Linked DNA regions of Homo sapiens: region 1 is linked to region 2. Evidence: fine-mapped expression QTL. A gene starts in region 2. The other region holds a variant in brackets. All regions are shown on one strand. Distances are from middle to middle.

What was found. PIP is the estimated chance that this variant, and not a neighbour inherited with it, causes the effect.
Region 1: its variant is the best candidate, but not a certain one, in a credible set for the expression of ALPK3 in iPS cells (HipSci, PIP 0.53).

Annotation. Positions count from the first base shown.
Region 1 is chr15:84,760,270-84,764,509 of GRCh38, forward strand. The region is part of intron 1 of ZNF592 (zinc finger protein 592); the gene reads left to right. Among named protein-coding and RNA genes, the nearest start is that of ZNF592, 14 kb to the left of the region's middle. RefSeq lists an enhancer at 345-846. The variant C/T (reference allele first, on the strand shown) is at 1,770.
Region 2 is chr15:84,815,392-84,819,631 of GRCh38, forward strand. It overlaps ALPK3 (alpha kinase 3), which reads left to right and starts at 1,965. Exons shown (of 14, transcript NM_020778.5): 1 at 1,965-2,204. The coding sequence starts at 2,062. RefSeq lists enhancers at 1,063-1,593, 3,721-4,240.

The sequences.
Region 1 (4,240 bases), 55 kb before region 2:
CATATCTCCTACTCCTTCTGCTTCAGGGCCTTTCTCTTCCTTCTTGTTCATCCCTCCGCCTAAAACCTCTTCTCCCCCATATTCTCATGGCTTGCTCTCTCACTTCAGAACTGAGAATATATTCACTCTTCTGATGTCATATGAGGAGCCCTGGTTGAGAAAGAGAATAAGTATGACTTTTATGAATCTGTCTCTGTATGTCTGTCTCCTTCCAGTGGATTATCAGCTCTACATGGGCAGGAATTTCATTTGTTCTGTTCACTGTGGTGTCCACTGTGGTATCCACAGTGACTAGAACAAGGCCTGGCACACAGTAATGGTGCTCAATATTATTGAATGAATGAAAGTACATGCGTGCATGTCTGCGGTGTGTGTGTGGTGTAGAGATAGGGTAGCAAAGGGCAGTGTAGCTAGCAGCTGGAGTAGGAGAGAAGGAGTGTGGTTGGGTGGAAGAGAGGAGGATGAAGAGGATGCTCTCAGTAGGAACGGAGTTCAGAGACATGGTCCAGTCTGTTCCAGTCTCTATACCCCATCTCTTACTGGTGCTGTTCAGCAGGGAGGCAGTGAGTTGGTGCTGCAAGACCAGTGAGGGGCAGCTGCTGAAAAACACAGTAGCCCTGGTCTTAGGCCTAGATTATGGAGGTTTTTGAAAGCCTGGCCCAGGGCTTGGACCTAATATGGTAGGCTACAGGAAGAAGTTTTTTTTTTTTTAGGACAGAGTTTCCCTCTTGTTGCCCAGATTGGGGTGCAATGGCACAATCTTGGCTCACTGCAACCTCCATCTCCCGGATTCAAGCAATTCTCTTGCCTCAGCCTCCTAAGTAGCTGAGATTACAGGCATGCGTCACCACACCTGGCTAATTTTTTTGTATTTTTAGTAGAGATGGGGTTTCGCCATGTTGGCCAGGCCAGTCTCAAACTCCTGACCTCAGGTGATCCACCCACCTTGGCCTCCCAAAGTGCTGAGATTACAGGCATGAACCACCATGCCCGGCCCAGGGAGTTTTTGAGCAGAGTAAGTGACCTGATAAAAATGGTGTTTGGGAAGGATTAGTCTTAAAGAAATTTGCAGGATGACCAAGTAGGGAAAGACCAGAGAGGGCAAGGAAAGAGCAAGGACCAGGGGGTCGGCAGACATGGGATGGAGCAGATGACATCAGTGAGACTTGGTAATGGCGGGATGCTCCCCAACTGCTGTGTGGCTGCCTTGACAAAGGCTTCCAGTGCTTCCAATGTGGTAGAGTTTAAAGTGTTGTCAGTGGTTTCAAGTGAGTTTTGGAAGCAGGTGGGGTGTAAGTAGGAGAAAGGAAAAGGAAGGGTCATCCTCAGGTTGCTGAAGGTGTTCATCAGGTTGAGGGGTCTGGGGGTAAGCAGGCAATAGTATCCCAGATGGCACCTTCACCTCACGGGCTGTAATCCCAGGAGAGGAGCCTGTCTGTTCTTTCTGGTCTGCTGAAAACTCTTCCTGTCTGAGTACAGCTGTCAGTGCTCTCAGGCTTTCTTCTGAATCTGCACATATGCTAAGATGATATCTGAAAGCCATTTGTTCCATCACCTTTCAAGTTCATTTTCTGTTTCCGTATGTTTATTTCTCAGAACAAATTGTCTTTGACGAACAAACCCATTGGATTGGATTAATTGTCTAGAAATACTTATTTCTGAAAGTATTTCTGAATGGTTTCTGTTTCATTAGGCTTCTATCCTGTTTTTGATAAGGGTTGTGCCAAGATGAGATCAGTGAAGAAGTGTTTTTGGTATAATCAACCAAA[C/T]GGCTGCTTCTTTATGATCTTTTGGTATGAGTCATATTTTGAGATTTGTGTTCCTGATGTGTTCATTTAGAGTATATATGTGATGGTCTGCTATGTGCCAGGCACTATTCTAGGCACTGGGAATATAACAAGGAACAAAATAAACACAAATCTTACTCTTATAGGGCTCATTCTGGTTTGTATGCATTTATAGATAATAAGTAAGATAAAATATAAGAGATGGTGAAAAGTGTTATGGAGAAAAATGAAGCAGGCTTGGTGGATGAGGGGTTTGGTGGGGAGGAAGGTCTTCTATTTTAAATTGAGAAGTCAGAGAAATCTCATGGATTAAATGGCCTTTGAGCGGAGGTCTGAAGGAAGTGAGAGAGGGAGCCACGCAGATATCTGAGAAAAGAGCAATCAGATTGGAGAAAAGAGCAAGTGCAAAAGCCCTTCAGGCTGGGGAGGGTTTAAGGAACCCATGGGGGAAGGTACGGATTTTGGGGATCCTATGGTGGCTCCACCTCTGTAATTTCTGGTTTAATTGGTCTGAGCTGGGGTTAGGCATTAGGATCGCTCCAGGTCTAAGAAGCACTGGTCTGAGGGTTAAATAAGCCTTATCCCCTGTATTTGGTGGAGAGATTTGAAGGGTAACTGTGAGTAGGAGACTTCAGCTGCTCTGATGGGAAGGGCAAGCAAGGGCCCCCTGACCTTGCCAGGAATAACAGGAATCTTCCACAGTAATAAAAACTCTTCAGTTTATGTCCCTTTTCTTATTTGATTACCTCACCTCTCTGGGCCTCAGTTTCCTTGCTTGTAGAGTAAGTGGTTTAAATTTAATGGTTTTCTAGAATCTCTTTGGCTCCGATAGTCCTGAATCTTTCTAGTGTTGGAAGAAGCTCTAATCTAGAACAGTGTTCTAGAGCAATGTTGTCTAATCTTGGTCTTATAACACTCTAAGTTGTGTCATCATTATGGCAAGGGCTGTGGTGAATGTCTCAATACCAAATTGAAGGAAAATTTGTGCCCTATTCAGTAGCACCTTGGGAAGATGAGTGTGTTGGGAAACTTGAAATGTGAAAACTGACCTGCTGGTTTGGAGTCCAAAGTACAGGGGCAGCTTGGTCCTTGGGGGCAGGCAGGAGCCTGAGTGCCAGTCTTAGTTCACTCACTGGTGAGTTCCTTGTGCAGTGTGAAGAGTGTGTTATAAACTGTAAGATTCCTACACATCCAAGCATGCGTGTGTGATTAGGGTGACCTGGGAGAAGCAGCCAGCCTGGAAGTGAAGCCTGACACTCAGGTTTGTTAGCCATTCTGCATCCAAACTGCATGATTGCGCATGTGAGAGAGACTGTCTGGATAACCCAACAGAAACTGGTGGCCAGAGGAACCAAGGTTAATCTGGAGTAAATAACCTAGTATACTCATTGGAGCACCTCCCAATTTATTTACTATTGGACAGCAGACCTAAGACACCCCTTGGCCCCTGATCTCTAACTTTTGTCCTCATTTGGACAGCACAGTGTCTGCTTGTTAGTTTATGTTTTGAAATGTGAAAGCCCAAATAAGAAAAGGAAAAACTTCAGGAAAGTTTTCTCTAGTTTCTTTCTGTAGAATTGAGATAATTAGTTTCTTTCCCTTCCCTTCTACATTTTTACATTAATATTGTCTGTATTACTATTTAGAATCCAAACTAAATGTTGGTCTGTCAAAACTGGACAAAAATGAAGTCAAGCGAGGGAATGCAGGATTAGAGTGAGAATGGGCAGAACGAGAAATTCAGGGAATGAGTCCTTTTATTAGGTAACTTGTGGGTATATGTAGTTGATGGGCCGTTAACCAGTGTTTCTCAACGCTAGTCAATTAAATCTGAATCTTAGAGGGGTAGTGGCCAAGTATTAGTAGCTTCCAAAGTTCTCAAGGTGATTCTCATGTTTGGCTACAGTTAGGGATCACCTAGTTTTTAAAAAAGAGTTCTGCCGACTTTCCTCTTTTTGACCCTCATTCTCATCACCTGCTCTGTGCTGACCTCTTCCTACACTGCTATCTGCCCCCGCCATGATTTCTGCAGCTCACCTGCCCCCCTGGCCCCTGCTTGGCCCTCTGCTTCTTCAGCTTCAGCGGGCATCCCGAGCACTGGAGGAGGAGTTGTGTGGAGGGGTAAACTAAACCCGGCTTTACTTCCCTTGTCTTTCTGTCCTCTCTGCATGCAATTTCTGGGGCACTCTGAAAACTTAGGAGGGAAAGCTTGGTGGCCACTGAGGTTGGTGGCATAATGCTTAACAAACATGTATTTGCTATGTGAAAGACAGTGTTTTAAGAGCTTTATAAATATTAACTCATTTGATCCCTATAATAGCCCATTTTACATATGGGGAAACAGACAGAGATGAAGAATCTTCCCCCAGGTCTCAAGGCTAGTAAGTAGTAGAACTAGGATTTGAACCCGGATGGAGTCTGTGCTCTGAAGCACCAGCCTGTAATAGAGGGAG
Region 2 (4,240 bases):
ACCCATGAGTGTTCACATGCTTTCCCACCCACCCCCTTTTTTTCTCTGCTGCTTGAACCAGCATACACGATTTAAACAAATGAACCAGAACTCCAAGTGGGTTTTCAAATATTTGAAAGACTACCCTGTAGATGACTGAAGATTCTGTGCACCTCCAGAGAGCCAAGAGCAAGAATGAATGGGGACATGTGATCAAGAGATGAATTTGGGATCACTAGGAGAGAACACATTAGTATTGGTCAGGATACTTCTACCAACAGAAGCCTAAATTGGAAATAGCAAAGGGAGAACTTTTTTGGTACACAGATTCCAAGGAAAGTTTGAACTGCCAACCTGCAGGAAGGCCAGGGACAAAGCTGGAACCCAGGAACACCTGAACGAGGGCACCTGAAAGCCACCAGGACCCTGTGTCCTTTGCCTCTGCTTCTCTCTGTGCTAGCTTCCTTATTCCTCACTGTAAACTGGCTTACTCTACAGGGCAGGAAACATGGCTGCTGACAGCTGTGGCCTCACAGCTCAGTTTTCCACCACAGAGGGTCTGGTTTTCTTTCCCAATTCCAGTTAAAAATGTTTTAGAGAAGAACTTTATTGGCACAGCCAGGGTCTATAGTCAGGGAGATTGGGTACCGTGAATAGCCTGGCTTGAGTTTGATGGCAGTCAGCTGAGGCCAGGAGTGGGATCATGTGGGAACAAGGTAGTTGCCATTGGAACCACACGGAGTAGGGGAAAGCCATTTCCAAAAGGAGTAGGGATGGGTGCAGCTTCGAAAACAGAAGGGTTGGACTCCTTTGCTCCCACTTTCTAACAATTACAGCCATTTAGCTTCAGGTACTTTCTGGATGCTCTCAGGAAAATAGGAGAAAGAAGGATGGATAAAAAAGTCTGTGGGCACTTCCGGCCGGGCGCGGTGGCTCACGCCTGTAATCCCAGCACTTTGGGAGGCCCAGGCGGGCGAATCACGAGGTCAGGAGATCGAGACCATCCTGGCTAACACGGTGAAACCCCGTCTCTACTAAAAAATACAAAGAAAAAAATTAGCCGGGCGTGGTGTGGGGCGCCTGTAGTCCCAGCTACTCGGGAGGCTGAGGCAGGAGAATGGCATGAACCCGGGAGGCGGAGGTTGCGGTGAGCCGAGATAGCGCCACTGCACTCCAGCCTGGGCGACAGAGCCAGACTCTGTCTCAAAAAAAAAAAAAGTCTGTGGGGACTTCCAATATTTAGACCAGGTTTCGGCAGTGCTTGGCACTAGTTCTTGGAAATTGTTGCATGATTTGATTATTTTTCTGGGTATCAGGACTCAGCCCATTTCCCCCTCTGGTGCTGAGAAATGGAGGCCGAAGGAGTGATCTAGAAGTGTTAATTGAGCCCCTAATCTATGCTAGTTACTGGGGGTGTTGGGGGAGACAGGAGAGAGATCCCACGGGGTTCCGGCCTCCCAGGGACTCAGGTCACTAATGGAGGTGGCTTGGCTTGTCTATGTGCTGGGCCAACAGCCACTGGCGAGGCAAGGCGAGGGTCAGTCACGGCTGGTGCCAGGAAGAGGGCTGGTTCTTTGGCTCCCTGGTCTCCCGCGGTCTAGCCCAAGCTGGCCAGCGGTTGACCTGGCTCCCCTGGCCCCGGCCAGGCCTCGTGGACCCCTCATATGCCACACGGGACATGAGCAGGCCGGCCGGGAGCCGGGTCCCGGGAGCTCCACGAAGGGGCCTGTCCTCCATGACCAGGACACCCGCTGCGCCTTCCTCCCGAGGCCTCCCGGGCCTCTCCAGACGCGGCGCTACTGCAGACACCAGGGCCGCCAAGGGAGCGGACTCGGAGCCGGCCCTGGGGCGGGCACATGGGCCCCGGCGCCCCCCGGCGTCTCCAAGCCGCGCTGCCCGGGTCGGGCCAGGCCAGGGGAGGGACAGCAGCAGGTGACGACGGCCCGGCCACCGGCTATAAATAGGGGCGCGCGTCAGCCGCGGGCGGGAGCGGCGGCGGCGGGCAGGGGCCCGGGGGCCGGGGCCTGGAGGACAGGCGAGGCAGCGGCGAGTGCGGGGCCGGCGGTCGGGGAGGGCGGTGCCATGGGGTCGCGGAGGGCCCCCAGCCGGGGCTGGGGCGCGGGTGGGCGGTCGGGGGCGGGGGGCGACGGTGAGGACGACGGCCCCGTGTGGATCCCCAGCCCAGCCAGCCGGAGCTACCTGCTCAGCGTGCGGCCCGAGACCAGGTAAGTGGCACCAAGGGGCAGGGCGGCGTCGGGCCGGCGATGCCCTGGGATCAGTCCCTGTGAGGGCGGCCTGGCCCCTGGAGGCCTGGGCTGGGCCTGCGCCCTCGAGCCCTCTCAGCCCCAAGGCCCAGGGCCTGGGGACATGGCCGGGCTGGAATGGCTTTCATAGCCCCTTGTGACCCCTCCTGATCCATGCGCCTCAGGCCTCTGGCAATTCGAGGCTCAAGAGAGGACAAAGGCTCCACTTTGGAGTGATTTCATGGGGTCTGAAGGCTTTCCTTATCTCCCCTGCCCCCTACCCTGCTACTCCCTGGCTTGGGATTCCACAGCTAGCGATAAGGAAAGCCAGAGTGGCTGAAATTCCTCCCTGGCAGGAAGGGAGGGGGAGAGCACTGGTGGGGACAGGGAGAGGGTGCTGGGGGGCTGCCCAGAGTAGGAGCTGCTTAGCTCAGGGTGGGGAGGTTCTCCAGGAAGAAATAAACCTTTGTAAATAAGGTTCCTCTACTGGGCCGAGGACTTGGGTCCTCCCCAGGACCTGAGTGGGGGCTGGTGAGATAGGGGGTGGGATGAGGTACTGTCTGGAGATGTTGGGAATTAAGGACTTGCAGCTCTGAGGGAGCCAAGTGCCCTGTCCAGTTTGGGGAAGTGAAATGCCAAGGGAGGTGTGGAACTGATGAGCCCTTCACTGGTCTTCCAAGAGTTCAAGAGGTGTGGAAGCTTTGTTTTAGCAGCTAGGCCACCCACAGATATAAAGACACAAAGACAATAGACAGGCATCCAGGAAATCAAAGGCACACAGGCACACGTGGACAGGCGCATTGCCATGGAGACAGACACTTCCTGCCCCCTGTGGGCAGCTCAGTTTCCCTTCACTTCTGGAGTCTGTTTTCCAAAGGGAAATGTGTTGAGATAGTGGTTGTTTCATAGCCTGAGAACTTGACTTGTGTATTATGCAGAAAACGGCCATTCCTCCAAGAGGCTGTCCAGAGACCTCTTGTTCTCCATTCCTAAAACAGCATAAAAACAGGCATCGAGGACATTCAGGAAAAGTCCTGGGCACTTCCTCGTGAATTGGCTGAGTCCTACTGACCTTGGAGTTGGGAAAGTTCAAATGTAACCGGAACCGGTTTCTGCATAAAACTCGTCAAATGGTGTCACATGTCTGGGGCAGGGCTGAGGACTGATGTTAGTGACTGAGTCAGACTCAACAAGGCCCCTGGCTGCCAGGAAAGAATACCCCTTTTTCTTACTCCTGGCTCTACAGATAAACCAGAATGAAATTTGGACATTTATTCCAGTCCTTAGAGAAGCTGACTCCCTTGTGGGAGCCTCACATTTGTCACAGTGACTTGTCTGGGCTTTGCCTCCTGTGTTTGGCCTTTGTCAATACCAGTGGAACAAACAGAAGAGGCGGAACCAGGGTCCTTCTTGGAGACAGCAGCAATGAAGGAAGGGAGGAAAGAGTGCCTTGAAAACCAGGCAGAATGGGGAGGGCAGGGGATCTGGGCTTTTAGGAAAAGGGCTGGAGAATGGACATAGTGCTGCTGCCTGGCTGAGCAGTTGTATGATAGATAAATGTTAATTGTACACCTCATGAGCACAAAGCTTGTGCCAGCCTGAGAGCTAGAGGCAGGATAGAAGTGGCTGGCTTAAGTCCCTTTGGACCTAAATGGGAATGTTCTTAAAAGGAGTCTCTTTCATCAAGTATCTGGAGGGGGCAGGACAGCAGGAGTGGGAGAAAGCTTTGGACTTTGGGCTGTGTTTTGCCCCTGCAGAGTTTTTTACTGCTCCTGCTGGCTAGCCACAGACCCCTAGAGGTTCTGAGAGACAAGGACAGCCAGATTTATCAGGCATCTGGAAAAGCCTTTGGCCAAAGTGGGGAGAATGTGACTGGGGCTGCAGTGGGGAGTGGAGGAGGCGAGGCAGTTCCTGCTTCTCTAGTAAGGCCTGACCTGTGTTGGAGGGAGCCACCGTACTGTCTGCTGTCCCTCAGAACAGCCTCACTGCCTGTGGGGGTGGGGAGAGCTCCCTAGAGA